7 linked regions of the Homo sapiens genome follow. The protein of the gene in region 7 purifies or fractionates together with the protein of the main gene of each other region. This does not show direct contact. Each region holds a gene or a part of one and is shown on either strand. Other genes may lie near its edges. The genes, in order: SUCLA2, HSPD1, ACOT9, STOML2, DAP3, IBA57 and SIRT4.

What was found.
Region 1: the proteins of SIRT4 (region 7) and SUCLA2 purify together in Homo sapiens (co-immunoprecipitation; one large-scale study listed by IntAct). This does not show direct contact.
Region 2: the proteins of SIRT4 (region 7) and HSPD1 purify together in Homo sapiens (affinity purification with mass spectrometry; 4 studies listed by BioGRID and IntAct, with this or other methods). This does not show direct contact.
Region 3: the proteins of SIRT4 (region 7) and ACOT9 purify together in Homo sapiens (co-immunoprecipitation; one large-scale study listed by IntAct). This does not show direct contact.
Region 4: the proteins of SIRT4 (region 7) and STOML2 purify together in Homo sapiens (co-immunoprecipitation; one large-scale study listed by IntAct). This does not show direct contact.
Region 5: the proteins of SIRT4 (region 7) and DAP3 purify together in Homo sapiens (co-immunoprecipitation; one large-scale study listed by IntAct). This does not show direct contact.
Region 6: the proteins of SIRT4 (region 7) and IBA57 purify together in Homo sapiens (co-immunoprecipitation; one large-scale study listed by IntAct). This does not show direct contact.

The regions. Positions count from the first base shown.
Region 1 is NC_000013.11:47,998,197-48,002,642, forward strand, and holds the start of SUCLA2 (succinate--CoA ligase [ADP-forming] subunit beta, mitochondrial precursor), read right to left. Parts: upstream 3,078-4,446; 5' UTR 3,074-3,077; coding exon 2,984-3,073; intron 1-2,983. UniProt on the Homo sapiens protein: ATP-specific succinyl-CoA synthetase functions in the citric acid cycle (TCA), coupling the hydrolysis of succinyl-CoA to the synthesis of ATP and thus represents the only step of substrate-level phosphorylation in the TCA.
Region 2 is NC_000002.12:197,489,394-197,493,401, forward strand, and holds part of HSPD1 (60 kDa heat shock protein, mitochondrial), read right to left. Parts: coding exon 3,931-4,008; intron 904-3,930; coding exon 804-903; intron 1-803. UniProt on the Homo sapiens protein: Chaperonin implicated in mitochondrial protein import and macromolecular assembly. Together with Hsp10, facilitates the correct folding of imported proteins.
Region 3 is NC_000023.11:23,708,694-23,712,701, reverse strand, and holds part of ACOT9 (acyl-coenzyme A thioesterase 9, mitochondrial isoform a precursor), read left to right. Parts: intron 1-4,008. UniProt on the Homo sapiens protein: Mitochondrial acyl-CoA thioesterase. Catalyzes the hydrolysis of acyl-CoAs into free fatty acids and coenzyme A (CoA), regulating their respective intracellular levels. Regulates both mitochondrial lipid and amino acid metabolism.
Region 4 is NC_000009.12:35,100,063-35,104,793, reverse strand, and holds the start of STOML2 (stomatin-like protein 2, mitochondrial), read left to right. Parts: upstream 1-1,662; 5' UTR 1,663-1,699; coding exon 1,700-1,744; exon of another isoform or gene 1,745-1,970; coding exon 1,971-2,108; exon of another isoform or gene 2,109-2,599; coding exon 2,600-2,699; exon of another isoform or gene 2,700-2,831; coding exon 2,832-2,890; exon of another isoform or gene 2,891-2,982; coding exon 2,983-3,084; exon of another isoform or gene 3,085-3,233; coding exon 3,234-3,368; exon of another isoform or gene 3,369-3,514; coding exon 3,515-3,659; exon of another isoform or gene 3,660-3,782; coding exon 3,783-3,862; exon of another isoform or gene 3,863-4,067; coding exon 4,068-4,196; exon of another isoform or gene 4,197-4,621; coding exon 4,622-4,731. UniProt on the Homo sapiens protein: Mitochondrial protein that probably regulates the biogenesis and the activity of mitochondria.
Region 5 is NC_000001.11:155,730,083-155,734,090, reverse strand, and holds part of DAP3 (small ribosomal subunit protein mS29), read right to left. Parts: intron 2,736-4,008; coding exon 2,676-2,735; intron 2,148-2,675; coding exon 2,058-2,147; intron 1-2,057. UniProt on the Homo sapiens protein: As a component of the mitochondrial small ribosomal subunit, it plays a role in the translation of mitochondrial mRNAs. Involved in mediating interferon-gamma-induced cell death. Displays GTPase activity in vitro.
Region 6 is NC_000001.11:228,179,113-228,183,097, reverse strand, and holds the end of IBA57 (iron-sulfur cluster assembly factor IBA57, mitochondrial isoform 1 precursor), read right to left. Parts: 3' UTR 841-3,985; downstream 1-840. UniProt on the Homo sapiens protein: Mitochondrial protein involved in the maturation of mitochondrial [4Fe-4S]-proteins in the late stage of the iron-sulfur cluster assembly pathway. Operates in cooperation with ISCA2 in the maturation of [4Fe-4S] proteins.
Region 7 is NC_000012.12:120,305,079-120,309,086, reverse strand, and holds part of SIRT4 (NAD-dependent protein lipoamidase sirtuin-4, mitochondrial), read right to left. Parts: intron 1-4,008. UniProt on the Homo sapiens protein: Acts as a NAD-dependent protein lipoamidase, biotinylase, deacetylase and ADP-ribosyl transferase. Catalyzes more efficiently removal of lipoyl- and biotinyl- than acetyl-lysine modifications.

The sequences.
Region 1 (4,446 bases), on a different chromosome or scaffold from region 7:
AGCTCAGGAGTTTGAGACTGCAGTGAGCTGTGATTTCACCACTGTCCTCCAGCTTGGTCAACAGAGCAAGACCCTGTCTAAAAAAACAAATAAATAAGTTAAAAAAAAAAAAAAAAAGAAAAAAAAACCCAGCAACCTCTCAAACTACTGTTTAGTATACCTCCACCTTCTGACTCAGAAATCCCATTCCTGGGTATGTATCAATAGAAATTAGTCCTTACATCTGTCAAAAGGCACACATAAAAATGTCTAGAGTGTCCAGAGCAGGCTTATTTATAACAGACAGAAAACAGAAATTAGCTGATTGCCCATCAACAGGAGAATGGATAAACTGTGGTATATGTATATAATAGTATACTACAGAGAAATAAAAAGAAAAAAAGTACTATGGCTCACACATCGATGGATTAATCTCACAAACATAATGTAGAGAGAAAGAAGCCAGAAACAAGAATATATACTTACATGATTTATTTTTATAGCGTTCAAAACCAGTCAAAATTAGCCTATGGTGACAGAAGTCATAATTGGTTGCTACCTTCTGTCAGGGAGTATTGATAAGAGAGAGGACATGAGAGCCTTCTGAGGGCTGGAAACATTGTATATCTTGATGCAGACGATGGTTACACAGGTGAATACATACATAAAAATTAATCTAGCTATCCACTTAAGCTGTACATCTTACTGTACATAAATTATACGTCAAAATAATAATAAAAATTAGTGGGTAGGGGAGTAACTAGCATAAGCCTGGCAAAAAGTCATACACTCAAATATTTTTTGTGATGACTATGAACTAGACAGTGGGCTAGGGACACTAAAAAAATAAAGACACTTGGGTCCCAGCCACAGAGTTCACAGGCATGTAAATAAACAACTGCAACACATATAAGAGCACTAGGTCACTAGCACATAAGTCACTAGGTGGCACCTAATTGGTTAGTTGGTCAGAGAAAATGTCACAAGGTCTCATCCCAGTTTAAATTTTTAAAAAATCTAATGTCTATAAAGAACACTTTGGGGACAACTAGAAAAATCTGAATCTAAACTATATATATTCATGTTACAGCAATGTTGAATTCCTAAGTATGATCACTGCGGTTATTTGGAAGAATGTCCTTATTCTTAAAGACATATGCTGAAATATCTATTTTCAACGAAGGTACACTAGGCTAAAGATACCAAGAAATTGGAGGAGGGTCAGAGAACTTAAACAAATGTTTAAAACAGGCCGGGTGCGGTGGCTCAAGCTTGTAATCCCAGCACTTTAGGAGGCCGAGGCGGGAGGATCACGAGGTCAGGAGATCGAGACCGTCCTGGCTAACACGGTGAAACCCCGTCTTTACTAAAAATACAAAAAATTAGCCGGACGTGGTGGCAGGCGCCTGCAGTCCCAGCTACTAGGGAGGCTGAGGCAGGAGAATGGCATGAACCCGGGAGGCGGAGCTTGCAGTGAGCCAAGATCGCGCCACTGCACTCCAGCCTGGGCGACAGAGCAAGACTCCGTCTCAAGGAAAAAAAAAAAAAAATGTGGAAAACAAATTGCTAAATTAAATGTGTGACCTTGAACGAGTTTCTTAAGACTCCGTACTTCTATGTCCTCATCTACAAAAGCAAAGGGTTGGACTAAGGTCCTTCCAAACTCTAGAGCTGCATTTCTTAATACCAGGGTAGAAGACAGCAACTGTTATAAAGAAAATAATATTGGAAATTTCCATAAGGAGAAATGAAGGCTTTTAAATGAACTTCCAAAAAGATAAAGATTTTGACTAGAATGAAAACGTATTTGTCACTAAATTCCCCATTTTCTAAAAACTAAATAGCACTCTTCTAAGATTCATAAGAAGGAAGTTCAAGGTCAAAAAGTCACTTCTATCGGGAAGCAAACTCACAGAACTCACTACCCCTAGGCTGAAAGTATGAACAACTTCAATAAAAATGAAAAAAAAAAAAAAAGGTAGGGGCGGGAGGGCCCTAAATCAATTCATACTATGACATGTATGAAGAGTTACTTCAGAAAAAAACCCAAAACTCTGGAATTGACTTAGGACACCAATAATGCCCTTCCACAGTTTTTTGTTGTCAAAGTTGGAAGGAAGATGTTTGTTTTCGAAGTTGTGGAGCCAACTCAAGTACACGGCTTTAGAACCAGACACCTCTGGGATTAAATCTCAGCTTTGATCTTACCTCCTATATGACCTAGTCCAAATTACTTGTTCTCTTAACCATAATATGTTCAACAATGATGCAGGTGTTGAATGACTTCCTCACAGTTGCTGAAAAACCTGAGAAACTACACGTAAAGCGCTTAGCACATTACCTGGCACACATCAAATATTCAAAACAAGGCCAGTAACTATTATGCTATAGCCTATCCAGAAATAAGGCTATACAAAAGATTATTTTCTTACCTCTCCAACTGGTTAGGTAGAAAACATAATCTTATTACTGCTATTAACAAGTAGAACAGTATACAACTACTTGGAGGAGAGGGGAAACTTCCCTACCTTGCCCCACAAAAGGCAAGTCAGTAAGCACCGCTGGTCCTCTGACATTCCCACCTATGACAGCTCCCAAGAAACACAAAAGTACTTTTGAAGGGCATTCCCCCCTGCCCAAAAAGGGGCGGCGCAAGTCTCAGCCCACCGTGCCAGACGCCGGAATGGCAGCAGAAAATGTCCTGACCCCCTCACCTCCACTCAGAGCCCACCTGCTCCCGCCCATCTCTTAGAAACTGCAGGAGCAGCCACGGCCGGGCCGCCGGGGATCCTCGCGGACTAAGGGCTGGGTCAGAGCCGCGCAAACATGGGCTCGCTCGTAGTCCTGGCGAGCAGCACTCCCAGGCAAGTCGCCCGAGGGCCTTGCAGGGCACCCAGAAAATGTCACTGCCGGCGAAGTGACCCCGAGCCGGGCCACGGGACCCCTCACACCTCACCCTTTCTCCTGCCGACCCTCGAGACGACAGCGGACTGGAAGGCATTACCTGAGCAGCAGCCCGCTGGGCCGTCCGAGGCCGGTGGTTCCGAAGGGTGGCCACGGCCACTAGCCTGCCGTAGAACATGGAGGCCGCCATTTCTGAGTCGGACCCCGTCCCCTCGGCGCCGCGCGCAGGCGCACAGGCGACAGGCGGCCCAAGGCGCAGCCTCTCTGCAGCGCTCACCTACGCCCCGCCTCGCGCCACCCGTTGGGGGCGGGGCCTCGGGTTAACACTGCAGCCGCTAGACCAGCTCCCTGGCGGGCGCGGAGCAAGCTTTGACCTTTGGAACTGGGCACCGCAGCCCCAATATCTGCCCTGCGGTCAGAGCAACCTGAACACTTCCTAGTGAATTGCAATGTAAAGGTGACCAGCGCCGCCACTTGGGTGATCTTAACTTCTCTCAGCCTCAGTTGCCTCATCTGTAAAATGTGTTTCATTCAAGAAATGATTACCCAGTGTCTACTTCGTGCTAAACAGCCTTGAGCCCTTGGCCTACAGCAATGAATAAAACCATTTGTGATGCTCAAAGAGAAGATGGTCGGTGTAACGCGCTTGTGATGCTCAAAGAGAAGATGGTCGGTGTCATGCGCTTCTGATGCTCAAAGAGATCGGTGTCACGCGCATCCGTGTGAAGACACCGCCAAACAGGGTGTGAGCAATAAGGCTGTTTATTTTAACTGGGTGCAGGCGGGCTGAGTCCGAAAAGAGAGTCAGCAAAGGGAGATAGGGGTGGGGCTGTTTTATAGGATTTGGATGGGTAGCGGAAAATTACAAAGGGGGTTTTTCTCTTACGGGCAGGGGCGGGGGTCACAAGGTGCTCAGTGGGGGAGGTTCTGAGCCAGGAGAAGGAATTTCACAAGGTTAATCACTCAGTTAAGGTGGGGCAGGAACAAATCACAATGGTGGAATGTCATCAGTTAAGGCAGGAACCGGCCAATTTCCCTTCTTTTGTGATTCTTCACTTGCTTCAGGCCATCTGGATGTACACGTGCAGGCTTGGGCTCAGAGGCCTGACAGTCGGCCACTAGTTACCAAAGCTGGTGGCAGGCTGGAGTCTCCAGGGAAGCTATTGATTGATTGATTGACTGATTGACAGGGTCTTGGTCTGTCACCCAGGCTGGAGTGCAGTGACGCGATCACAGCTCACTGCAGCCTCAACCTCCCATGCTCAAGGGATCCTCCCACCTCAGCCTCTGGAGTAGTTTGGGACCACAGATGTGTGTCACCAGGCTTGGTTGATTTTTTTATTTTATTTTTTTAGGGACAGAATCTCTCTATGTTGCCCAGGCTGGTCTCCAACTCGTGGGTTCAAGCGATCCTCCTGCCTCAGTCTCCCAAAGTGCTGGGATGACAGGTGTGGGCAACCACACCCAGCCAAGGATCTGGTTTTTGAAAAGATAAATAAATTTAACAAACCTCCAGCAAGACTGCAAAGAAAAAAGAAAAAGAGAAGACACAAATTACCAATG
Region 2 (4,008 bases), on a different chromosome or scaffold from region 7:
GACTTGAGTATAGTCTCTTTCACTGCATTTCCAAATTCTCAATTCTCACAACTGTGGTAATTATTACCAGCCTTACTTGAGAAAAAAACATCGAAGGTCACACTTACTGGTAGAGCCAGGACAAGACCATAGGCCTTGACTCTCAAGTCCTACATCCCTTGTAGCATACACTTCTACCTTTCAAAACTGAGCTCGGTAGCTCATGCCTGTAATCCCAGGACTTTGGGAGGCGGAGGCAGGCATATTGCTTGAGTCCAGAAGTTTGAGAAGCCTAGGCAATACAGTGAGACCCGTCATTACTAAAAGTAAAAAAATTAGCTGGGCATGGTACTGCACCTGTAGTCCCAGCTACTTGGGAGGCTGAGACGGGAGGATTGCTTGAACCCAGAAGGTGGAGGTTGCAGTAAGCCAAGATCGTGCCACTGCATTCCAGCCTGGGTGACAGATCAAGACACCCTGTCTCAAAAAAAAAAAGAAACCCCACAGATTTAAGTCAATAAGAATAGTCAATATAGATCAAGTCAAGAATAGTCAAGACAGATCAAGACACTGTCTCCAAAAAAAACAAAAAAAAGGAAACCCCCTTATTCAGTCAATAAGATTTAGTCAATATAGAATAGTCAGTAAGCTCATTCTTAGGCCAGACTTGTGGCAAATTAACGGGAATTTAATCCAACCCCTACCTTCCAAAGAGCCAAAAGAAACAGATAGTTGTAGTATCTAATTGTGAAATGTTAAACTATCTATAAATTCCAGACAAGTATAAACATTCAGCAAACCATTATCACATTTATTTTACTTACTGCACCACCAGTAGCAATAGCCATATCTTTAAGCTGGTTCTTTCTATTGTCACCAAACCCTGGAGCCTTGACTGCCACAACCTGAAGACCAACCTTTAGCCTGTTAAGAATAGTTGATAGTAAGATTTAAATGAAATAAAAATGCCTATCTGTTTAATTCCCCTCAAGCTGTTACTAGATTACTTAGGACTCCCTAAGTAATCTGGTTTGGTTTTTGTGTTTTTTTGTTTTTTTTTTGCTTCCTAGCAATTTTTGATCAAATTAAGACAGGAAGTATCTGAGACAGTTTAGGCTATTTTCTATTAATTATACTTGTCCATATCCGTTTACCTTCTTAATAAACTGTTGGCCTGGCCGGGCGTGGTGACTCAGGCCTGTAATCCCGGCACTTTGCAAGGCCCAGGCAGGTGGATCACGAGGTCAGGAGTTCGAGACCAGCCTGGCCAAGATGGTGAAACCCTGTCTCTACTGAAAATAACAAAAATCAGCCAAATGTGGTAGCAGGCACCTGTAATCCCCACTACTCAGGAGGCCGAGCAGCAAAAATCACATCACAGTAAGTTATAGGATACAGTGATAACTATTATGAATGGTAGAAAAACAGTAATTACTAAATATTACATTTGAGGGTCATTTAATAAACATCTCCATATATTAATGCTGAGTTTTGAATGAGCAATGTTCTGAATTCACTTCTTTTATAAATGTTATACAAAAAGCTGACAGTATTGTTAAGCTCACCTGAAATTTTTACCAGGTAAATGAATACTTGGAATGTGTAATCAAATGTCCATTTGAGAGCAGATTGTGAAACAGAAGCAACGTTCAAACTTCAAGACAGCTGGTCTATTTTATTAAGGACCCAAATAAAAATCAGAGGAATAAGCTATATGCTATGTAAACTGGATATCCCACTTTTCAACTAGCAGTAAAATGGCTTAATGAAAACTCTGTAGGCTTGTTTTTTTCTGGCCTCAAGTCTTTTTTTTGTGTGTTTTTTTTTTTTTTTGAGACAGAGTCTTGCTCTGTCGCCCAGGCTGGAGTGCAGTGGCGAGATCTCGGCTCACTGCAACCTCCGCCTCCTGGGTTTACGCCATTCTCCTGCCTCAGCCCGCCACCACGCCCAGCTAATTTTTTGTATTTTTAGTAGAGACGGGGTTTCACCGTATTAGCCAGGATGGTCTCCATCTCCTGACCTCATGATCCACCCGCCTCGGCTTCCCAAACTGCTGGGATTACAGGCATGAGTCACCACGCCCAGCCAAGTCTTTTCTTAATCCCTCCAAAAAAGCAAATCCAAGCTAAGAAAAACATTCCAGGGTAAGGCAGCTCATTAGAGCTTTTGGGTCAGATGAGCACGTGTAATGTCTAAAACGTACCTGTTAATGTATGCATTTCTACTATAACAAAATGGAAAGAAAAGTCTTGCTTCTGACATACTTCAATTCTGAGATAAGGAAGAACAAACATTTTAATAATGCCCTTAGATTGTCTGCAGCATGAACATTACCTGTCTTAAAGTTTAAACTAATAGTAAACTATAGCTTAAAATGTAGATTTAAATAAGTGACTAGACCTCACCTTATTTTAGATTGGGTGCTATTTTCTCTACTTCAGACTATTTAGTAAACATTTAACAACAGACTAAATACTTGATCACAGCCAAGGGTAGTGGCTCATGCCTGTAATCCCAGCACTTTGGGAGGCTGAGGTGGGAGAATCACTTAAGATTCACCAACAGTTTAAGACTAGCCTAGGCAACATATTGAGGCAACATATTGAGACCTCGTCTCTACAAAAAAATTAAAAGATCAGCCAAGTGTGCTTGTGCAAGTGTGTAGTCCCAGCTACTTGGGAGGCTGAGGCAGGAGGATTGCTTGACCCCAAGAGTTCAAGGCTGCAGTGAGCTATGATCGTGCCGCCGCAGGCCAGCCTGGGTGACAGAGTCTGTCTCTCAAAATAAATAAAAATATTCGATGGTGAAATACACTTACATCTGAGTTATTTATTTAGAGACAGAGTCTCGCTTTGTTGCCCAGGCTGGGGTGCAGCAGCACAATCTCGGATCACTGCAACTTCCGCCTCCCAGATTCAAGTGATTCTCCTGCCTCAGCCTCTGAGTAGCTGGGATTACAGGCACACGCCACCATGCTCTGCTAATTTTTATATTTTTAGTAGAGACGGGGTTTCACTATGTTGGCCAGGCTGGTCTGGAACTCCTGATCTCAGGTGATCCACCCGCCTGTGCCTCCCCAAGTGCTGGGATTATAGCTGTGAGCCACCATGCCTGGCTCTGAGTTATTTGGAAGTTAGTTGTTTACTTCCCTGTTCTATGCAAAATAATATTCTGAAAATTTACATATTTTTAACCAGAAAAACCTTAAAAAAACAAAACAAAACAAAACAAAAAACAAGATTGACACTTGAACCCCGGAGGCTTGAGCTGAGATTGAGCCACTGCACTACTGCACTCCAGCCTGGGTGACAGAGACTCTGTCTCCAAAAATAAAAATAAAAAATAAAAAAATTACAAGGCCGGGCGCAGTGGCTCACACCTGTAATCCCAGCACTTTGGGAGGCTGAGGCGGGCGGATCACGAGGTCAGGAGTTTGAGACCAGCCTGGCCAATATGGTGAAACCCTGTCTCTACTAAAAATACAAAAATTAGTCAGGTGTGGTGGCACGCACCTGTAGTCCCAGCTGCTTGGGAGGCTGAGGCAGAACTGTTTGAACCTAGGAGATGGAGATTGCAGTGAGCCAAGATTATGCCACTGCACTCCAGCCTGGGCCAGGGAGTGAGACTCTGTCTCAAAAAAAAAAAATACAAGATTCAGTCATGTGCCTTCAAAACAACTGTAAACACTTGCAAAATACAGAAAGGTACCCATGTGCTAAATTAGTCTATTCTATGAGAAAGCTGATCAAAATAGTAAAGACTTTGGGGTTCCTTCAAAAACACAACCATAAGGATACATTAGAGCACACCTGATTTACACAATTACAATTCTAGATACAAACCCAACTGGATCAAATGTGGAGGTACACATGATGGAAACTGCAAACAGCAATACAAATAATTCTGTCTTTCACCGAGAAATATAAATCAACAAATACCACTGCTTATTACCTATTCAAGACGAGTGTACTTAGAGCTTCTCCATCAACATCTTCAGCGATTATGACCAAAGGCTTACGGTGAGCATTG
Region 3 (4,008 bases), on a different chromosome or scaffold from region 7:
TTGCAGTGTGCCGAGATTGCGCCATTGCACTCCAGCCTGGGCGACAGAGCGAGACTCCATCTCAAAACAACAACAACAAAAAGAGATGTTGCACAATTCTGTGAATACACTAAAAGCCGTTAAATTGTACACTTTCAATGGGTGAATTGTGTGGTATGCGAATTATACCTTAATAAAGCTGTTATCAAAAAAAAACAGACTTACAGACATAAAAATCAAATGTAATTTTTTGTTAGGCATGACAATAGTAATGTAGTTACTTAAGAGAATATTATCCTTTTTTTTTTTTTTTTTTTAAGATGGAGTTTTGCTCTTGTTGCCCAGGCTGGAGTGCAATGGTGGGATCTCGGTTCACTGCAACCTCCGCCTCCTGGGTTTGAGCGATTCTCCTGCCTCAGCCTCCTGAGTAACTGGGATTACAGGCATGTGCCACCATGCCTGGCTAATTTTTGTATTTTTAGTAGAGATGGGGGGGTGTTTCACTATGTTGCCCAGGCTGGTCTCGAACTCCTGACCTCAAGTGATCCACCCACCTCAGCCTCCCAAAGTGTTGAGATTACAGGCGTGAGCCACCATGCCCAGCTGAGTTGTGCAATCTCTTAAATCTGTTTTAATCCAGAACAGTTGTGTCTTCCCCTATTGTTTCTTATTCACTCGTTGAGAGGCTGGATCATTTGTTCTAAATAGTGTCCCACTTTCTGGATTTGTTCTATTGCTTTCTCATGGTGGTTTGTTTGTTTGTTTTTTGATCTTGTTTCTCTATCCCTAGTAATTTCTCTAAACTGAAGTTAGATCTAAAGCCTTGTATTAGATTTAGGTTGAGCATATTTGGTGAGAGTACTACATAGATGATGTTGTATATCTCGTATTTCATATTGCATCGTATCAGGAGGTACAGGTTGTCCCACTCACAGTGATGCTAAGATTAGTGTGTGGGTTCAAGCAGTTACAGCCTAATCTCTCCTTTGTGAAGTTCAGTTTTTCCTCTTCTGATCAGCAACAATCTACAGGGGTGTACTTTGTCATCCTGCAAATAGCTGAGTTTCCCATCAGTCTTTTTCCAGTGCTTTCAATGTCCACTGCTGATCATTGCTTTAATTAGTATCATTAGGCAGTTTAGAGTAATTCTCAAATTTTGTCATTCCTTCTATGTTTGTTAGCTGGAATTCTGTAAAGAAGAGCGTTCCCTTAACAACTAGGGCGATTGGGTTTGAAATGGAGTTAGGATCAATGCTTCATTCTTGTCTTTTATTTACATGTTTTCAGAATAAGGAGTTGGTTCACTAGCTAGTGATGACATGCTTTTCCCAGTTTTTTAGCTTTTTAGAAAAGTATCATGTTTTTAAATTTCTTTTTTTTTTTCTGTGTGTGTGTGTTTTTGAGATGGAGTCTCGCTCAGTCACCCACACTGGACTGCAGTGGCGCAATCTCGGCTCACTGCAGCCTCTGTCTCCTGGGTTGAAGAGATTCTCCTGCCTCTGCCTCCCAAGTAGCTGGGACTACAGGCATGCCCCATTATGCTTGGCTAATTTGTTTTGTATTTATAGTAGAGACGGGGTTTCACCATGTTGGCCAGGCTGGCCTCGATCTCCTGACCTCAAGTGATCTGCCCACCTAGGGATTCCAAAGTGCTGAGATAACAGGCGTGAGTCATTTCGCCCAGCCCGTTTTTTTTTTGTTTTTTTATTTTTTTTGAGATGAAGTTTTGCTCTTCTCTCCAGGTTGGAGTGCATTGTCATGTGTCATGAGCATGGCTCACTGCAGCCTGGGCCTCCTGTGCTCAAGCAATCCTTCCGCCTCAGCCTCCTGAGTAGCTGGGACCACAGGCACATACCACCATGCCGAGCTAATTTTTTTTCTTTCTTTCTTTTTGAGATGGAGTTTTACTCTTGTTGCCCCGGCTGGGGTGCAGTGGCGCAATCTCGGCTCACTGCAACCTCCACCTCCTGGTTCAAGTGATTCTCTGGCCTCAGCCTCCTGAGTAGCTGCCCAGCTAATTTTTAAATTTTTTGTAGAGATGGGGTTTTGCCATGTTGGCCAAACTGATCTCAAAATCCTGGGCTCAAGTGATCCTCTCACCTCGGCCTCCCAAAGTGCTAGGATTACAGGTGTGAGCCACTGTCCTGCCAGAAAAGCATCATTATGAATTCATGGTTGTAATATATTACATGTATTTCAATAAATTGCAGCCATTGTTTCTCTTGATGCTCCAAGTGTGCCTTCTTTGGGCGGTGGGAGTTCCTCTAAGCTGGCTCCTTTCCACCTGTCTGTTTGATAGCTTCCTGCTGTCTGACACAAGATGTCTTGGGCTCATCTTACGTATTTCCTGCCCCAGGCCTGGAGTCAGCCATTTCTCCAAGTAGTCCTGGGGTTCCTTTTAGTGGGAACTGGTATTTAGACATCAAAATCTGGGCACTAGAACTGTACATTGTTACTAGTTTGTTATTGTTTCCAGGCCTTTTTAGTGGACAGAGCTAGGATATATTTTAAACAAACAAAAAACCTCATGAGAGCTGGGTGTGGTGGCTCACGCCTGTAATCCCAGCACTTTGGGAGGCCGAGGTGGGCAGATCACTTGAGCCCAGGAGTTTGAGACCAGCCTGGCCAACATGGCGAATCCCCATCTCTACTAAAAGTACAAAAAAATTAGCCAGGTATGGTAGCATGTGTCTGTAGTCCCAGACGATGTGGGAGGCTGAGGTGGGAGGATTGCTTTAACCCGGGAAGCAGAGGTTGCAGTGAGCCAAGGTCGCACCACTGCACGCCAGCCTGGGCGACAGGGCAAGACCCTACCTCAAAAAAAGAGCCTCATGAGTTTATATGGTCATTTTCAAGTCATTTAACCATATAGACTTCAACTTACTTTACGTCATCTTTTTTCTCTGAAATTGAATTCTTGGTTTCTAACAACAGTTACACCCAAACTGAGAAAAACTAATTGTGGGGGTAGAGCTGGGGTGGGAGGGATTGCTCTTTGCACAGGACAGAGTCCAGTGGCCTGTGGGAAATCTCATTTGTATTAGAAACTTGATTTAGGAGTCTGCAGTGAAAAATCTTTGCTGCTGCGTGGAAAGCTGACTTGGAAAGCCAAATTAAGATAGAAAAATATGTTGGTCCCTTAGTGATCTGAGGGAAGAATAACACCCATCTACTCTGGCCCTTCCTGCCAGCCCCAGCTGACCTGCTGTGGCCAGTGACTGGCCTGGGGCTTGTATTCAAGCACTGAGGCCACTGCTGCAAGTTTCACTCCCAGCTGATGCATGTCACTTTCCCAAGCTGTTGTTTCAATTCTTTTGTTTTTTGTTTTCAAGACAGAGGTTGGCTCTTGTCACCCAGGCTGGAGTGCAGTGGTGCTATCTCGGCTCACTGCAACCTCTACCTCCTGGGTTCAAGTGATTCTCCTGCCTCAGCCTCCTGAGTAGCTGGGATTACAGGCACCTACCACCACACCCGGCTGACTTTTGTATTTTTAGTAGAGACGGGGTTTCACCATGTTGACCAGGCTGGTCTCGAACTCCTGACCTTAGGTGATCCACCTGCCTTGGCCTCCCGAAGTGCTGGGATTACGAGCGTGAACCACTGCCCCCGGCCTGTTTTAATTCTTTTGTTTCCATTGTTGTTTCATCAAATCTTTTGATTCTACCACAGTGAAATATTATCCCTTTTCCCTTATTTTTTATTTCAAAAAATTTGATGCTTACAGAAAAGTAGATAGAATAATGCAACAAACGTATGCCTTTCACGTAAATTGTATTACATTTGCGTAATTCTCTTACCCTCTCTCTACAAATACACACATTTACATATTTTTTCCCATGAATCATTGGAAAGTAAGTTTGAGACTGCTTCACCCATTCAGGAGTTCAGCATGTATTTCCTAAGAACCAGGTATTTCTCCATAACCTCAATGCCTTTATTATATCTGAGAAATTCAACAGTGATACAGTTATTTAATATGTGATCCGTATTCAGATTTCACCAGTTGTCCCTAAAATGTCCTTTATAGCT
Region 4 (4,731 bases), on a different chromosome or scaffold from region 7:
TCAGATATTGCTCCAACCTCAGGAGTTGAAGAGGCTTATGCGGTGGGGGCAGGAGGAGAACTGCTTTCCCTCAGCTGAGGGAAGAGGGGCTATTCCAGAGGGACTGAGTCAGTAGCCAAAGACTCAGCTTCCCCTGTCCTTCCCCAGTCCCTTCACTTCCCCTACCCTCTGACCTATCTCTGAAAGCCAAGTTATGCGTATGTGTGTGTGCACAAGCTTGTCTTTGTGTGGTATGTGTGTGTGAGTGTGCATGTATGCACACACACAGGGGTTAACCACCCCTCACCTAGGGCTCCAGACTCCAGTTGTCCCTCTCCTCCTACCTGTGTCTCCTTGTTTTGGGGTCCTGACTGAAGAAGGTGTCCAGGGGGCAGAGTCAGGGCCAAGCACTGGGGTGCCTCCTCTCACCTGGCCAGACTCTGACCCACCTACCTCAGCTGGGGTGAGGGGCACCCCTCAAACTCAGTCATGTGGTTCCAAACTACCCCATTCCCCACTCCAGACTCTGACCCAGCCTCAGTCCTAACTCCTGGGGCTGGGCTGAGGGGAACAAGCATTTGCTGAAACTTGAAAAAACAAAGCAAATCAAAAACAGGAAAAAATTGTACCTGGTACTTTTTTTTAGAAAAAAAGATTAAAAAAGAAAGAATAAATTCTTGTTTGGAAACTTGAACTAAGCTCTACTTTTGTTGTTGTTGTTGTTGTTGGGGAGAGGGTGTGAAGGGGGATGGAGGGCCTTCCTGGAGCTGGGACTCAGCCCTTTCTACCAGAGAGGCAACAGGCCTGGGCCCATGAGGTCTTAGGCTAGTCCCTGCTGATTCCTGGGGCCTGGTTTTTCTCCTTTCGGAGGGGTTGGTGGGTAAAGTTCAGCCGTAGAAGCTGAACTCTGAATTGTAGATCAGGATTCTAATACTGGTTCTATTAATGACTTTAGCCCCTCAGAACTTCAGTGCCCTCATATGTAAAATGGAGGTGACTACGGAGGTCTCTTGACTACCAGAGCATTAGGGATGTGGGCAAGGTGACATGCTCCAGACAAGGTTGAACGTTGAGGCTGTTTGCTGGACTGTATTTAAGACCGGGCATAACAAACCTTGCTTGGGAAGACAGGGAAGGAGCTGCAGTGTCTTTGAGGAAAGAGGGGAGGGGAAAATCTCGGCCCAATCGCCAGGCAATATTAGGCCCAGTTTCCATGGCAACGGGATTGGGGTCAGTCCCCAGTGGGAGTCCTGGGCACAACACAGCGGGACTACCAGAGAATATCACTATGGCAACCATGGCAACGAGTCAGCTCCAATCCACTAGTCGCTATGGTGACAGATGGGGGCGATACTACGCTCTGGTGGGCAAACTGAGTCTCGGGTGAGGACGAATAATTCAGTGCGTGGTGTCTGAGTGATAATGCCCGCGAAAAATAGCCTCCATTTTGGCCATCAGGCCGGGGATCTTCGGCGTGAACAGCTAAACCCAGAACAACCACAGCCTTCGCCCTTCTCTAGAAGGTCTGCGTTTCCCAGGGAACAACTTGACGCGCCGTTCGACCAAGTAACGCTGATTGGGTGAGTGTTGAAGCGGGGGAGGGAGCTGCCGGAAGTACATCCGGGGGAGCGGAACTGCAAGAGGAAAGGCTCGGGTAGGCTTCTGGGAGCGACCGCTCCGCTCGTCTCGTTGGTTCCGGAGGTCGCTGCGGCGGTGGGAAATGCTGGCGCGCGCGGCGCGGGGCACTGGGGCCCTTTTGCTGAGGGTGAGAGCGAGGCAACCTTTCCAGAGGGTCAGGACAGAGATTACCTGGGTTCTCCGCTGGAAAAGAGCGAAATTCCAACTTTTGGAGAGGACTGGGGTCAGAGGTCATGGTCCCCATGTGATTCTCCGAGGATCCTGAGGGTCGTGGTTTATGGAGATGCCTTCAGGACCGAGGGGCGGCGTGTCTGGCCAGATGGGATCTCTGCTCACCCTCTTCTTTCCTTCAGGGCTCTCTACTGGCTTCTGGCCGCGCTCCGCGCCGCGCCTCCTCTGGATTGCCCCGAAACACCGTGGTACTGTTCGTGCCGCAGCAGGAGGCCTGGGTGGTGGAGCGAATGGGCCGATTCCACCGGATCCTGGAGCCTGTGAGAAACCTCTTCTGCCCACCCTGGGCCAGCCAGATGACCAATCCCTCACGACATGCAATGTCGGGAGGACTTCCTTTGGGCCTGCCCGCACTGTTAGCTCCCGACTCTGTAGGCCAGACCTGACAGGGCCCAGGCTGCTGACCATCATCCCCATGTTACCACCTTTTCCTATGCATCTCACAGGCCCCATTCTTGGGAATCTCCCCTGCCCACTCTCAGCCCTACCTCTCAGTCTGCATAGAGATGGCTATTCTGCTGGCTCCGATTCTCATGACTCTCCCCTCCATTCAGGGGCCTAGTCTTGCATTCCTGTTCTCTTGGGTTTTCTTACCAGTGACACCTCAGCCTTCTGAGGACTTATTTCTTGGTAGGAGCTGCTGCTTTTCTGGGCATGTTCCATGTGTTGACTCCCTACATACTCCAGGACTAGCTTAGGTCCCAACCCAATAGTTCCCAGCCTTCTGAGGACCCATGACTCCTCTTTCCAGGGTTTGAACATCCTCATCCCTGTGTTAGACCGGATCCGATATGTGCAGAGTCTCAAGGAAATTGTCATCAACGTGCCTGAGCAGTCGGCTGTGACTCTCGGTGAGGGGTTCAGGGTGACATGGGTGCTCTGAGGCTATTAGGATGTGGTTGCTGTAGATCCAGAGCTTAGTAGAAAGAACTGGTTGGGACCTAGAGGCCTGACTTTCCCCGTTTTCTCTCCTGGTTCTACAGACAATGTAACTCTGCAAATCGATGGAGTCCTTTACCTGCGCATCATGGACCCTTACAAGGTACCTGTCCCCTACTTTATCCAGCCTTTTGAGTTGCCCTCTTCACTAAAATCTTGTGCCCAAGCTTCTTACACTATCCGTGTCCATCTCAGGCAAGCTACGGTGTGGAGGACCCTGAGTATGCCGTCACCCAGCTAGCTCAAACAACCATGAGATCAGAGCTCGGCAAACTCTCTCTGGACAAAGTCTTCCGGGTAAGCAGATCTGAGCCAGAGTTAGGGTTTGAAGACACAAACCTGACACTCTTAATCTTTTCTGAAGGTCAAGATCAGTCCCAGGCCCTTCTCAGTGTAGGCCCTTGATAGGTAGGTTGAGGCTGTGGGGCTTACACCTCTTTTTCCAGGAACGGGAGTCCCTGAATGCCAGCATTGTGGATGCCATCAACCAAGCTGCTGACTGCTGGGGTATCCGCTGCCTCCGTTATGAGATCAAGGATATCCATGTGCCACCCCGGGTGAAAGAGTCTATGCAGATGCAGGTGGGGGCCAAGGAGGGGTGGGAAAAGGGCCTCAGGGTGCTCCAGTACCAGGAGGATCCAGACTTCCCTCCTGTTATGATGGGTAGAGTTGCATGTCTGTATCAGTCTCCCTTGGCTTGTTGATTGGGATTGTTGTGGGCTTCCAGGTGGAGGCAGAGCGGCGGAAACGGGCCACAGTTCTAGAGTCTGAGGGGACCCGAGAGTCGGCCATCAATGTGGCAGAAGGGAAGAAACAGGCCCAGATCCTGGCCTCCGAAGCAGAAAAGGCTGAACAGATAAATCAGGCAGCAGGTCAGGAGAGGGTAGAGGCTGAGGGAGGAGCAAGGCATGGGCCTTTGAAGATTGGTGCTGGGGCAGGATCTTTGGGGTACTTTGACTTCATGGGTCAAGCAAGCTCTGTCCCTTCTCTTGCAGGAGAGGCCAGTGCAGTTCTGGCGAAGGCCAAGGCTAAAGCTGAAGCTATTCGAATCCTGGCTGCAGCTCTGACACAACATGTGAGAGGCCCCTGGGTGGGAATGGGGACAGGAATTGACAGTGGAAGGGGTTCTCTTATCTACGCTTGAGGAGAGTTCCGCCTCTGTGGGCTCTGTTGAGCCAGATTACATGGTCCTTTTTATTGTGAACTGCTTTCTTCATTCCCCATCCCCCCCTTCTTCTCCGTATCGGTGATCTCTGATTTTTATCCCCCTGTGATCACAGAATGGAGATGCAGCAGCTTCACTGACTGTGGCCGAGCAGTATGTCAGCGCGTTCTCCAAACTGGCCAAGGACTCCAACACTATCCTACTGCCCTCCAACCCTGGCGATGTCACCAGCATGGTGGCTCAGGTTAGAGCTCTCTGAGGACCCAGCATAGAGCACTGGTGCCAGGGACCAAACTGAGACCCCACCACCGTCATCAACACTTACATACCATAAAGGTCTTCAGAGTGCCTTGGCCCTAGACCTCCCTTCATTCTTTGTAGAGATGGAATCTAAGAATGAAACATCTCCACTCAGTCCTGCAAATATGGAAGTTCTTGAGATACCTTTTTTTGGTAGATACTTGTGCTGGTATTCTGAGAGTCACTTTACTCTGATGGTTTGCAAGATTCCTAAAATCAACTCCAGAGCTTACAAGACAGGTTTGAGAGAGGGAGAAAGGAAAACCAACTTACTGGCCCCCATGCCATCTTTTCCCGTTTAGCCATTGGTAGGCTGGGCTGCACCTCTGTCAAGTGTCCTCATGGTATTCTCTCTGTTCCTCTCCTCAGGCCATGGGTGTATATGGAGCCCTCACCAAAGCCCCAGTGCCAGGGACTCCAGACTCACTCTCCAGTGGGAGCAGCAGAGATGTCCAGGGTACAGATGCAAGTCTTGATGA
Region 5 (4,008 bases), on a different chromosome or scaffold from region 7:
TGACCTCCCGGGCTCAAGCGATCCTCCCACCTCAGTCTCCAGAGTAGCTGTGACTACAGGTGAATGCCACCATGCCCAGCTAGTTTTAAAATTTTTTTTTGTAGAGATGGGGTCTCACTTTGTTGCCCAGGCTGGTCTCAAACTCCTGAGCTCAAGGGATCCTTCTGCCTTGGCCTCCCAAAGTGCTGTGATTACAGCTGTGAGCTACCAAGCCTGGCCATGAAGGAATTGTTTTTTTGTTTTTTGTTTTTCTTGAGACGGAGTCTTGCTTTGTGGCTCAGGCTGGAGTGTAATGGCACAATCTTGGTTCACTGCAACCTCCGCCTCCTGGGTTCAACCGATTCTTCTGCCTCAGCCTCCAGAGTAACTGGGACTATAGGCACGCACCACCACACCTGGCTAATTTTTACATTTTTAGTAGAGACAGGATTTCACCATATTGGCCAGGCTGGTCTTGAACTCCTGACCTCGTGATCCACCCGCCTTGGCCTCCCAAAGTGCTGGGATTACAGACGTGAGCCATCACACCCGGCCAATGAAGGAATTTTTAATGGCCAAATCTAAGATGATTTGAGCACCAAAATAAAAAGTGACAGTAATGATTTAGATTCTATTAAATAAAAATCCACAAGACCATACCAGCTGCGGAGGCTCCATGCCAGGTATAACTAAAGTAATGGATACTAAAACCAGTAGGTGGAAGTTTGAGAAGTAACAGGATCTTTACCTAGTCTCAAAGTATATCTCTACAACATACATATTAATTCCAAAGCAAAATAATAACTTTACTGAAGAGAAACCAGATGGACAACACCTCAGCTAACAGTTCCAAAATCATTACCAGTAATGGGAGAAATGTGCCTCCTGATAGGATGCACTCACTCAGACATGTCATCACTTCTAACATCACTTCTATTCAGGAGGAAACCTCAGACAACCCCAAAAAGTGACCTACAAAATAGCTGGCATGCACATGCCAAAAACATAAAGATTTCAAATGACAAAGACTGACAGACTGTCACAGATTAAAGGAGACCAAAGAGACATGACAACTTTTTCTTTTTTTTGAGACGGAGTCTCGCTCTGTCACCCACGCTGTAGTGCAGTGGCGCAATCTCGGCTCACTGCAACCTCCACCTCCCGGGTTCAAGCGATTCTCCTACCTCGGCCTCCTGAGTAGCTGGGATTACAGCCACGCGCCACGACGCCTGGCTAATTTTTTGTATTTTTAGTAGAGACGGGGTTTCACCATGTTAGCCAGGATGGTCTCGATCTCCTGACCTCATGATCCGCCTGCCTCGGCCTCCCAAAGTGCTGGGATTACAGGCATGAGCCACCGCACCCAGCCAGAGACATGACAACTTAATGTAACACATTATCTGGGATTTATTTTTCTATAAAAGATACTGGGATAACTGGCTACATCAGAATAAATCCCACCAATTAGGTAAAAGTATGATATCAATGTCAATTTTCTGACTTTGATAATTATGCTCAGGGTATATTAGAGTATCTTTGTTCTTAGGAATGAGACATTATTTGGAGACAAAGAAGCATCAAGGCCAGGCGCCGTGGCTCACGCCTATAATCCTAGCACTTTGGGAGGCTGAGGTAGGCGGATCACTTGAGGTCAGGAGCTTGAAACCAGCCTGGCCAACATGGTGAAACCTCGTCTCTACTAAAAATACAAAAAATTAGCTGGGCGTGGTAGTGGACGCCTGTAATCCCAGCTACTTAGGAGGCCGAGACAGGAGAATCACTTGAACCCGGAAGGCGGAGGTTGCAGTGAGCCGAAATTGCGCCATTGCACTCAAGCCTGGTTGACAGAGCAAGACTCCGTCTCAAAAAAAAAAAAAAGAAAAGAAACTCTGGAGAAAGACGGAGACGGATAAAGCAATGATGATCAAGTTAATATTTTAGGAATCCAGGGGAAGGGCATACAGGAATATGATTTTTCTCTAAGTCTGAAATTATGTCAAAATACATAGATTAATAAAAATATTTTTCTTTAAACAGGATAACAATCTAAGTAGAAACAAATTTTCCTTTGACTTGACCTTTCCCAGCAACTCCTGGGGCAGATAGGCTTTCCGGGGCTTAAAGAGAGACCCAGTCTGGCTCAAAGCCGACACAATGGCGCCTCCATGCTGAAAGAAAAGAGAAAAGGCTGAACTGGAAAAAGTTAAAAAGGATGGAAAACTGCATTAATCATCTGTAGATTTTTTTTTTCTTTCTTGGGCATACAGTGTTACAAAAGTGTGGTCTAGCACAGTTAAATGGCAACTAAATTGGTTATTCCAGATTTGGCTCTGACAATAAACTGCTACCTGATTTTAAATTTACCATGACATATTTGTGGGTCTCAAACTCTTTTCCAAAGACGGTAAGGAGATACAAAAACACTTTAAATGTCTGCAAGCAAAATAAAATTAGGCCAATATTTAAATAAAATGGTTTTGAATAAACTTACTTTGGAAAGATTATAAACCACATATATATAGATTTTAATTCAGACTTTATTTCTAACTTGGTACAGATACAGGAATTAAATAAGACATAATAACTTACTGTCCATAAAATTAGAGACTGTAAAGTATTAGCAATGAAATAGTAGAACATGTTTAAAATGATAATACATTTCTTTCTGAAATGTGTGAGGTATCATATGCACTTACCCAATCATTTTTCATCATTTTCCTCAAGTTGTGAACAAGTGCTAATTCCTCGGGGGCAATCTGCATATCGGACAGAAAGAGAGAAGAGATCATCACGTGCCTTTCCTAGATGTTCTCCCGAAACAATTGACAACAATTTTTTTTTTTTTTTGACAGAGTCTCGCTCTGTCGCCCAGGCTGGAGTGCAGTGGCGCGATTTGGGCTCACTGCAACCTCCACCTCCTGGGTTCAAGCGATTCTCCTGCCTCAGCCTCCTGAGTAGCTGGGACTATAGGCGCGCGCCACCAGAGCCTAATTTTTTTGTATTTTTAGTAGAGACAGGGTTTCCCCGTGTTAGCCAGGACGGTCTCAAACTCCTGACCTTGTGATCCACCCACCTCGGCCTACCAAAGTGCTGGGATTACAAGCATGAGCCACTGCACCTGGTGACAACAATTTTTTTAAAACCCTCAACTAAGACATAATTGTATACCTGAAGGTACTCCCTCTAGGATAAGCCACGTAGCCTCTGGCCCTAGAACTGCCATGCTTCTGGAGATTAACAGTCACTGAGAAAAACACCCACTGCCCCAAACCAGCCCCATTTTGATGCTTCTGATCTCCTCTGCTTAGACCATCTAGACTCATTTTGAAAAAAGAATCAAAAGACAGATAAAAATTAAGAAAGAAAACATAGCTTCTGCTGTCATTCTCTTTCCACAACATACTCCCTTAGTTTTCAATGAATAGTGGAACTCTTGGCATTACCTCCTCCTCTGATTCCATTTTACTGTTTATCTTTTCTTTTTTTTTATTTTTTTGAGACAGAGTCTCATTCTGTTGCCCAGCCTGGAATGCAGTGGCACGATCTCCACTCATTGCGGGCTCTGCCTCTTGGGCTCAAGCCATCCTCCCATCTTAGCCTTCCAAGTAGCTGGAGCTACATACAGGTGCAAACCACCATGCCCAGCTAGTTTTTTATATTTTTTGTAGGGACAGGGTTTCACTGTGCTGCCCAGGCTGACCTCAAACTCCAAACTCCTGGACTCAAGCAAATCACCTCTTGGCCTCCTAAAAGTGCTGGGATTTATCAGCCATCACACCAGGCCTTGCTGTTTATCTTCACATATATATACGAATATGTATGTGTGCATATGCATATACGAATATGTATGTGTGCATATATACGTATATATACATATATACATATATGAATATTATATATACATATATACATATATGAATATTATATATACATATATGAACATATAGGTATATTCGTATATTATGAAAACATATGAATATATGTATATATAAATATATATGAATATATGTGTGTATATATACATATATG
Region 6 (3,985 bases), on a different chromosome or scaffold from region 7:
ATTAGGGTTAGGTGGGGATTAGGGGGCATGAGCCACCATGTCCAGCGGGCAATAAAGTTTCAATTAAAAAACAGCAACATCTGCAGCCCAGCACGATGTCCTTAAAAGACCAGAAACACAATCAGCACACACCTGTCCACAGCTGGTGAGGCCAGAGGGCAGGTGTCCACCCCTCAGAGCCGTTTTCCCCAAATGCCCTTCTCCAGCATGTCCGGGTGGCCCACACATCTGAGCTCCCAAATTCAGGACCCTCCAGACTGCCTACCCCCAGCTGGGCATCCAACTGCTATCCACACCTCCAGTGCCCTCACACGCCCCATCCCTGTCTCCACCACAAACACCCCACCCACCACACACCCCGTCCCCACCATACAAACCCCGTCCTCCCCCACACACCCCATCCCCCCACACACACCCCGTCCCCACCGCACACACCCCGTCCCCACCGCACACACCCCGTCCCCACCGCACACACCCCGTCCCCACCGCACACACCCCGTCCCCAGCACACACACCCCGTCCCCACCGCACACACCCCGTCCCCAGCGCACACACCTCATCTCCCCACCACACACACCCCGTCCCCACCGCACACCTCGTCCCCACCACACACACCCCATCTCCCCACCACACACACCCCGTCCCCACCGCACACCCCATCCCCACCGCACACACCCCGTCCCCACCACACACACCCCGTCCCCACCACACACCTCGTCCCCACCACACACTTCCCGTCCCCCCACCACACACCCCGTCCCCACCATACACACCCCGTCCCCACCACACACACCCTGTCCCGCTTTCCTGCTTCATTTTTCACCATAGAGCCCGTAGCAATAAAATATACTGTGTACTTTATTTTCATTGGCTATAAGCATTCAATACATGGTTGAATGAATGAAGAAATGAATGAATCAATGAAAGATGGACCAGAGCTCAGCCATCTCCCAGTTTTTCTTCAGCAGGACCCCCTGCTATTATTGTCCCTGAGAACTTCTCACTGAGAGAGTCTGACATAAAACAAAATGTATTAATCCTTCATTTCTCCCACAAATGCCGATGCGCACAAACTAAGCTAGCACCATCGCCAGGGAAATCAAAGACGGGGACACTGGAGATGGTCAGATGCCCACAGCCCAGACAGTCACAGTCCTAGCTTGGGCTCCCTGCCCCAGGGTTGGCACGTGGAGCACTGCCCTGGGTCTCCATGGCCCATAGCCAGACAGACCCTTTTTCTTACTTTTCTCAAACCAAGGTGTTCACCCAAGACGTTCAAAATTTAAACACTGAATCTCTAAATGGAAACTAAGAAGACTGACAGCACCAAGCGCTGGCGAGGACGCAGTATGACAAGAACCTGGCACACTTCTGGTGGGAATGTAAATGCTGCACTCACTCCGGGAAAATGTCTGGCAGTTCCTAGCAACACTGAGTTTTCCTGCCCTGTGGCCCAGAGCTCCACCCCAGGGGCTTACCAGAAAGACAGGAAAATGTATGTACACACAACCTGTGCAAGTGTGGAGATGCAGAGACCCCTGAATAAGAACAGGCAAACATTCCTTATTCCCAGCTTGCTAAAGTAAGGGAATCAGTCGCCATCACTCATATTGGGTGGAGATGCCCAGGCTGGCCAGAGGAGTGGGAGAGCTTCCAGGTGAGACAGGGACGGCTCCAGGTGAGCCCTGATGGAGTCTGTGGCCTGGGGAACTAGAGGCAGCTCACAGGAGTGGGCCTCCCATGAGATTGGTGAAGGAAGTGTCTGCCTCCATTTGTGCTGCTACAAGAGAATACCTGAGGCTGACTCATTTACAAGGAACAGAGGTTTATTGGCTCACGGTTCTGGAGACCGGACAGTCCAAGATCCAGGAACTGGCCGACTTGGGAATTCCACCTCCAAGATGGTGCTTTGAACACTGGAGGGCAAGAGAGGCACAAGCGGGCTGGACTTACCCTTTCATAACATTAACTCCGCCCTTGGAGAGTGGAGCCCTCACAGCCTAATCACCTCTTACAGGCCCCATCTCTTAACACTGTTAGAATGGCAATTCAATTTCAACATGAAGTTAGCACAGTGCCTCATGCCCCAATCCCAGCTACTTGGGGACAAGAGTTGAAGACCAGCATTTAAAAACAAAAAATTTTAAAAATTAGCATGCACCTGTGGTCCCAGCTACTCAGGAGGCTGAGGTGGGAAGATCACCTGAGCCCAGAAATTCAAGACCAGCCTGGGCAATGCAGTGAGAACCCCATCTCTACAAAAAGTAAAAAAAAAAAAAAAAAATTAGCTGAGTGTGATGACTCACACCTGTAGTTCCTGCTACTCAGGAGGCTGAGGCAGGAGAATCATCTGAGCCCAGAAGGTTGAGGCTGTAGTGAGCTGTGTTTATGCCACTCCACTCCAGCCTGGGCAAGAGTGAGACTCTGTCTCAAAAAAAAAAAAAACACTCCCAACTACGATTTTGAGTTTGTTCATTTCTCCTTGAAGGACTGGCTTTTAAATTCCATGGTCTTCCCTCTATAGTTTGGAAGATATATTTCCATTCTTTTAGAGATTATCTGAAAACTCTGATAAGCCTTGTAACAGATGCTGAAGTCAGTGTCCGTGCCCTCCTTCCGACCAGTAGGGGGACTTTAGAACACTGTAGGTTTGGGCACCTCTCTCCCAACTCAACATGTGGCATCTTTTTTATAAACTCCAAAAGTAGGCATTCTAAGTAGAAGCTTCTAGATGTGGTGTTTTAGACATGCCCACAAATCCACCTTCCTGCCTATTCACTCCTTCTTCCATCTCCAGCTTCCCCACAGGATCCCTCGCCAGAAGCCCAGACATGCCTTAGACGCTCTAGGCTCTGCTGGCAGCAAACTCCGGAGTGAGGGCAGTTTCGTGGTATGAAAATGCGTTTAGCCCTCTTTTTTTTTTTTTTTTTTTTTTTTTTTTTGAGACAGAGTCTCATTCTATTGCCCAGGCTGGAGTGCAATGGCACAATCTTGGCTCACTGCAACCTCTGCCTCCTGGGTTCAAGTGATTCTCCTGCCTCAGCCTCCCGAGTAGCTGGGATTACAGGAATATGCCACCACACCCAGCTAATTTTTATATTTTTAGTAGAGACAGGGTTTCACCATGTTGATCAGGCTGGTCTTGAACTCCTGACCTCAGGTGATCCACCTGCCTTGGCCTCCCAAAGTGCTGGGAATACAGACGTGAGCCACTGCGCCTGGCCCCTCATTCTTGAAAGACGGATTTTCTGGGTACACAATTCTAGGCTATCACTATTTTCTCCCAGGACTTTGAAGATATTATTTACTATCTTTCTGGCTTCCACTGTTGCTTTTAATCAACTACTTATTTTCTTCTTTCCAGATAATCTCTTTCTTTTCTGCCTTAAGATCTCTTTGTCATGAGATTCTGTACTTTCACCAAGACGTGACTGTTTGGGTAGAGCTTTTTAACTATGCTGCTTGGGAGCTGCTGGTTCCTGAACCTAAGGAGCAGGGGCTCCTGTTGGTTTGGGAAAGTTCTCAGCCGTATTTCTCTGAATACTTGCCTCCACCCCATATTCTCTTTCCCCTCCTTCTGGAATTACTCGTAAATTGCGGATGTCATACTAAACTCTCCATCTTCTTGTCTCATCCCATCTCATATTTTCCAGCTCTGTCTTTCTGTGCTGCACTTTGGGTCATTTCTTCAAACAGTTCCCGATTCTTCAGGAAACACATCATGGAATATTTTTTAGAGTATTTTATTTTTATTTCAACAAGTTCTCTTTTTAAAATCTGCTTGGTCATTTTTATAGTCTCTTGCTTCCTGTGCATAAATTGTTTTCTTTAAATATATTAAACATCCTCATTCCATGTGATGTGTCTGCTTACTCTAAGATCAGAACATTGGTGTGTGTGCTTCTGTCTGCCTTTCTGCTGGGCCTTGTTTATGGTACTGTGTGTGTGTGTTGACAATTTCTTTCCTGTACCTTAGGATGTTTTG
Region 7 (4,008 bases):
CTGCCTCAGCCTCCCGAGTAGCTGGGATTACAGGCATGTGCCACCATGCCCGGCTAATTTTTTGTTGTTCTTGTACTTTTAGTAGTGACAGGGTTTCTCCATGTTGGTCAGGCTGGTCTTGACTCCCGACCTCAGGTTATCCACCCGCTTCGGCATCCCAAAGTGCTGAGATGACAGGCATGAGCCACCACGCCCGGCGGAAAAAATTGTTTTAATGAATCCATAAGCATCATTAACTCAAATTCCCTGGATACCACCTTAGTCTAGGTCTTTCAGGCTGACCTCCCTGACCTGCTCTTTTTAATCCTGTTTAGCCTTCCTCAAATGCTATTTTTATCATGTTGCTTGCTTGCTCAGAAACCACTAATAAACCCCTTTGGTGTCTCACAGCAGACCCAACTGCACTGCCTGATTTTCAAATGTAACCATGATTTGGGCCTAACTTTCCCAGACAATCTGGTTTCTGCAAGTCCCAGGTCCAAACCTCTACAGAGGCCAGGCCAGACTCCTCTGGGATCTACAACTTCCCTTCATTTGGAAAGCCCTGTTTCCCGCTCTTGCCTAGACAAACCTGAGCCAATCTCAAGCCCCCTGTACCCATAAAAGCTTTCTTGGGGCAGGCGCTGTGGCTCACGCCTGTAATCCCAGCGCTTTGGGAGGCCGAGGCAGGCGGATCACGAGGTCAGGAGTGAGTTCGAGACCAGCCTGGCCAACATGATGAAACCCTACCTCTACTACAAATACAAAAAATTAGCTGGGGGTGGTGGCAGGCACCTGTAATCCCAACTACTTGGGAGGCTGAGGCAGGAGAATCACTTGAACCCAGGAGGCGGAGGTTGCAGTGAGCCGAGACCGTGCCACTGCACTCCAGCCTGGGCAACAAGAACAAGACTGTGTTTCAAAAAAAAAAAAAAAAAAAAAGCTTTCTTGGGCCAGGCATGGTGGCTCACACCTGTAATCCCAACACTTTGGAAGATCAAGGCAGGAGGAGGGCTTGAGCTTAGGAGTTCGAGACCAGACTAGGCAACACAGCAAGATCCTGTCTCTATTTAAAAAAAAAAATTTTTTTTTTAAAAAGCTTTCTCAACTGATTATTCCAATCTTTACTAAATCTGTTTATTTGAACATGCACAGCATATAAATCAAGAACCACACAATTTCACAATCATGCGTTGTCATTTATCATTAATTATGTGCTTTTCTTTGTTTGTTTGCTTGGTTGTTTTTTGAGAAGGAGTTTCGTTCTTGTTGCCCAGGCTGGAGTGCAATGGTGCGATTTCAGCTCATTACAACCTCTGCCTCCCGGGTTCAAATGATTCTCCTGTCTCAGCCTCCTGAGTAGCTGGGATTATAGGCATGCACCACCATGCCTGGCTAATTTTGTATTTTTAGTAGAGACAGGGTTTCACTGTGTTGGTCAGGCTGGTCTTGAACTCCTGACCTCAGGTGATCCCCTGCCTCGGCCTCCCAAAGTGCTCGGATTACAGGCGTGAGCCACCGTGCCCGGCCAATTATGTTATTTTTGTGTCTTCCCAAATATTACAAAGTTCTTGCATATAAAGTGGGCCATGTTTTATACTTTGGTTTTTGTTTGTTGTTTGAGACAATCTCCCTCTGTCGCCCAGGCTGGAGTGCAATGGCACGATCTTGGCTCACTGCAACCTCTGCCACCCATGTTCATGCAATTCTCCTGCCTCAGCCTCCCGAGTAGCTGGGACTATAGGCGCCCGCCACCACGCCTGGCCAATCTTTTATTTTTAGTAGAGACTGGGTTTCGACATATTGGCCAGGCTGGTCTCAAACTCCTGAGCTCAAGTGATCCGCCCCCTCAGCCTCTCAAAATGCTGGGATTATAGGTGTGAGCCACTGAGCCCAGCCTATACTTTGGTTCTGACCACTAAGAAGCACAGTAGTTAGTGTTATAATGTACTACATAGTGTAACGTATGTACACCATACATTCTAGGCACCCAGTAAATATTTCAGCATTGGCAGACTGACTTCAGCCCTCAGAGGAGCCTCTCTAGGGCTTAAAGAAATAAGTCTCCAATTAGCTACAATTATTGCCAGACCCATAAGCATGATACCCTCCCATGTATCTGTTCCCTCATTATTGATTGAGTTCTGACTACTGCCCGGCTACGTTATGGTCTATGTATCTAGCCATCCTAGGCATTGGAAACCCAGCAGTTTATAGCACATGCTATTGGTGTTCAGCTCATATTTTCCTCAGAACATGCTAAAGGCCACGTTCGAACAGTTTCCTTTCTTTTTGTTTTTTTATTGAGATAGAGTCTCACTCTGTTGTCCAGGCTGGAGTGCAGTGGCACAATCTTGGCTCACTGCAACCTCTGCCTCCCAGGTTCAGGCGACTCTCGTGCCTCAGCCTCCCAAATAGCTGAGACTACAGGCGTGCGCCACTATGCCCAGGTAATTTTTTGTATTTTTAGTAGAGATGGGGTTTCACCGTGTGGGCCAGGATGGTCTCGAACTCCTGACCTCAAGTGATCTGCCTGCCTCTGCCTCCCAAAGTGCTGGGATTACAAGCATGAGCCACCGCACCCGTCCCAGTTTCCTTTCTCTGTTTTTTTGTTTGTTTTTTTTTTTGACGGAGTTTTGTTCTTGTTGCCCAGGCTGCAGGCTGGAGTACAATGGCACAATCTCGGCTCACCGCAACCTCCGCCTCTTGGGTTCAAGCTATTCTCCTGTCTAAGCCTCCCGAGTCGCTAGGATTACAGGCATGCACCACCACGCCCAGCTAATTTTGTATTTTTAGTAGAGACAGGGTTTCTCCATGTTGGTCAGGCTGGTCTCGAACTCCTGACCTCAGGTGATCCGCCCAACTCAGCCTCCCAAAGTGCTGGGATTACAGGCGCGAGCCACCGTGCCCAGCCAATTTCCTTTCTTAAAAAAATTTTTTGTAGAGACGGAGTCTGGCTGTGTTACCCAGGCAGGTCTTGATCTCCTGGCCTCAAGTAATCCTCCTGCTTCAGCCTCCTGAGTTGCTGGGATGACAGATATGAACCACAGCACCCTGGTGGACACAATTTTCTTTCTTTCTTTTTTTTTTTTTTTTGAGACGGAGTCTCGCTCTGTCACCCAGGCTGGAGTGCAGTGGCGCGATCTCGGCTCACCACAAGCTCCACCTCCCAGGTTCACGCCATTCTCCTGCCTCAGCCTCCCGAGTAGCTGGGACTACAGGCGTCCGCCACCGCGCCCAGCTAATTTTTTGTATTTTTAGTAGAGACGGGGTTTCACCATGTTAGCCAGGATGGTCTCGATCAACTGACCTCGTGATCCGCCTGCCTCAGCCTCCCAAAGTGTTGGGATTACAGGCGTGAGCCGCCGCGCCCAGCCTACACAATTTTCTTACAAGCAGTTTCCTGTGTCTCTCTTGCCTCAGATGTTCTCTGCCCACGGAAGCCTCCTTGGGAGGAGCAGAGTCAAAATGTTAGGGAATTAATTCCCCTAGAGTGATCCTGGACCCATGAGGGATGAGAGATGGTGAATAAATACCCTAGCTTCAAGGCCAAGCACAGTGGCTCACACTAGTCATCCCAGCACTTTGAGATGCCAAGGCAGGAGGATCACATGAGCCCAGGAGTTCGAGACCAGCCTGGGCAACATAGTAAGACTTCGTCTCTACAAAAAATAAAAATTAAATTAAAAATTAGCTGGGCACGGTGGCGTTTGCCTGTAGTCCCAGCTACTTAGGAGGCTGGGGTGAAAGGATCACTTGAGCCCAAGAGATTGAGGCTGAAGTGAGCTATAATCACACCACCACATCCCAGTCTGTGTGACAGAGTGAAAGCCTGTCATACACACACACACACACACACACACACGTGCACACACAAACACAAAAGAAAATAAAAGAAAATCACCCTAGCTTGCTCAACTTTCTTTTTTTTTTTTCTTTTTGAGACGGAGTTTTGCTCTGTTGCCCAGGCTGGGGTGTGGTGGCATGATCTCAGCTCATGATCTCAGCTCACTGCAACCTCTACCTCCC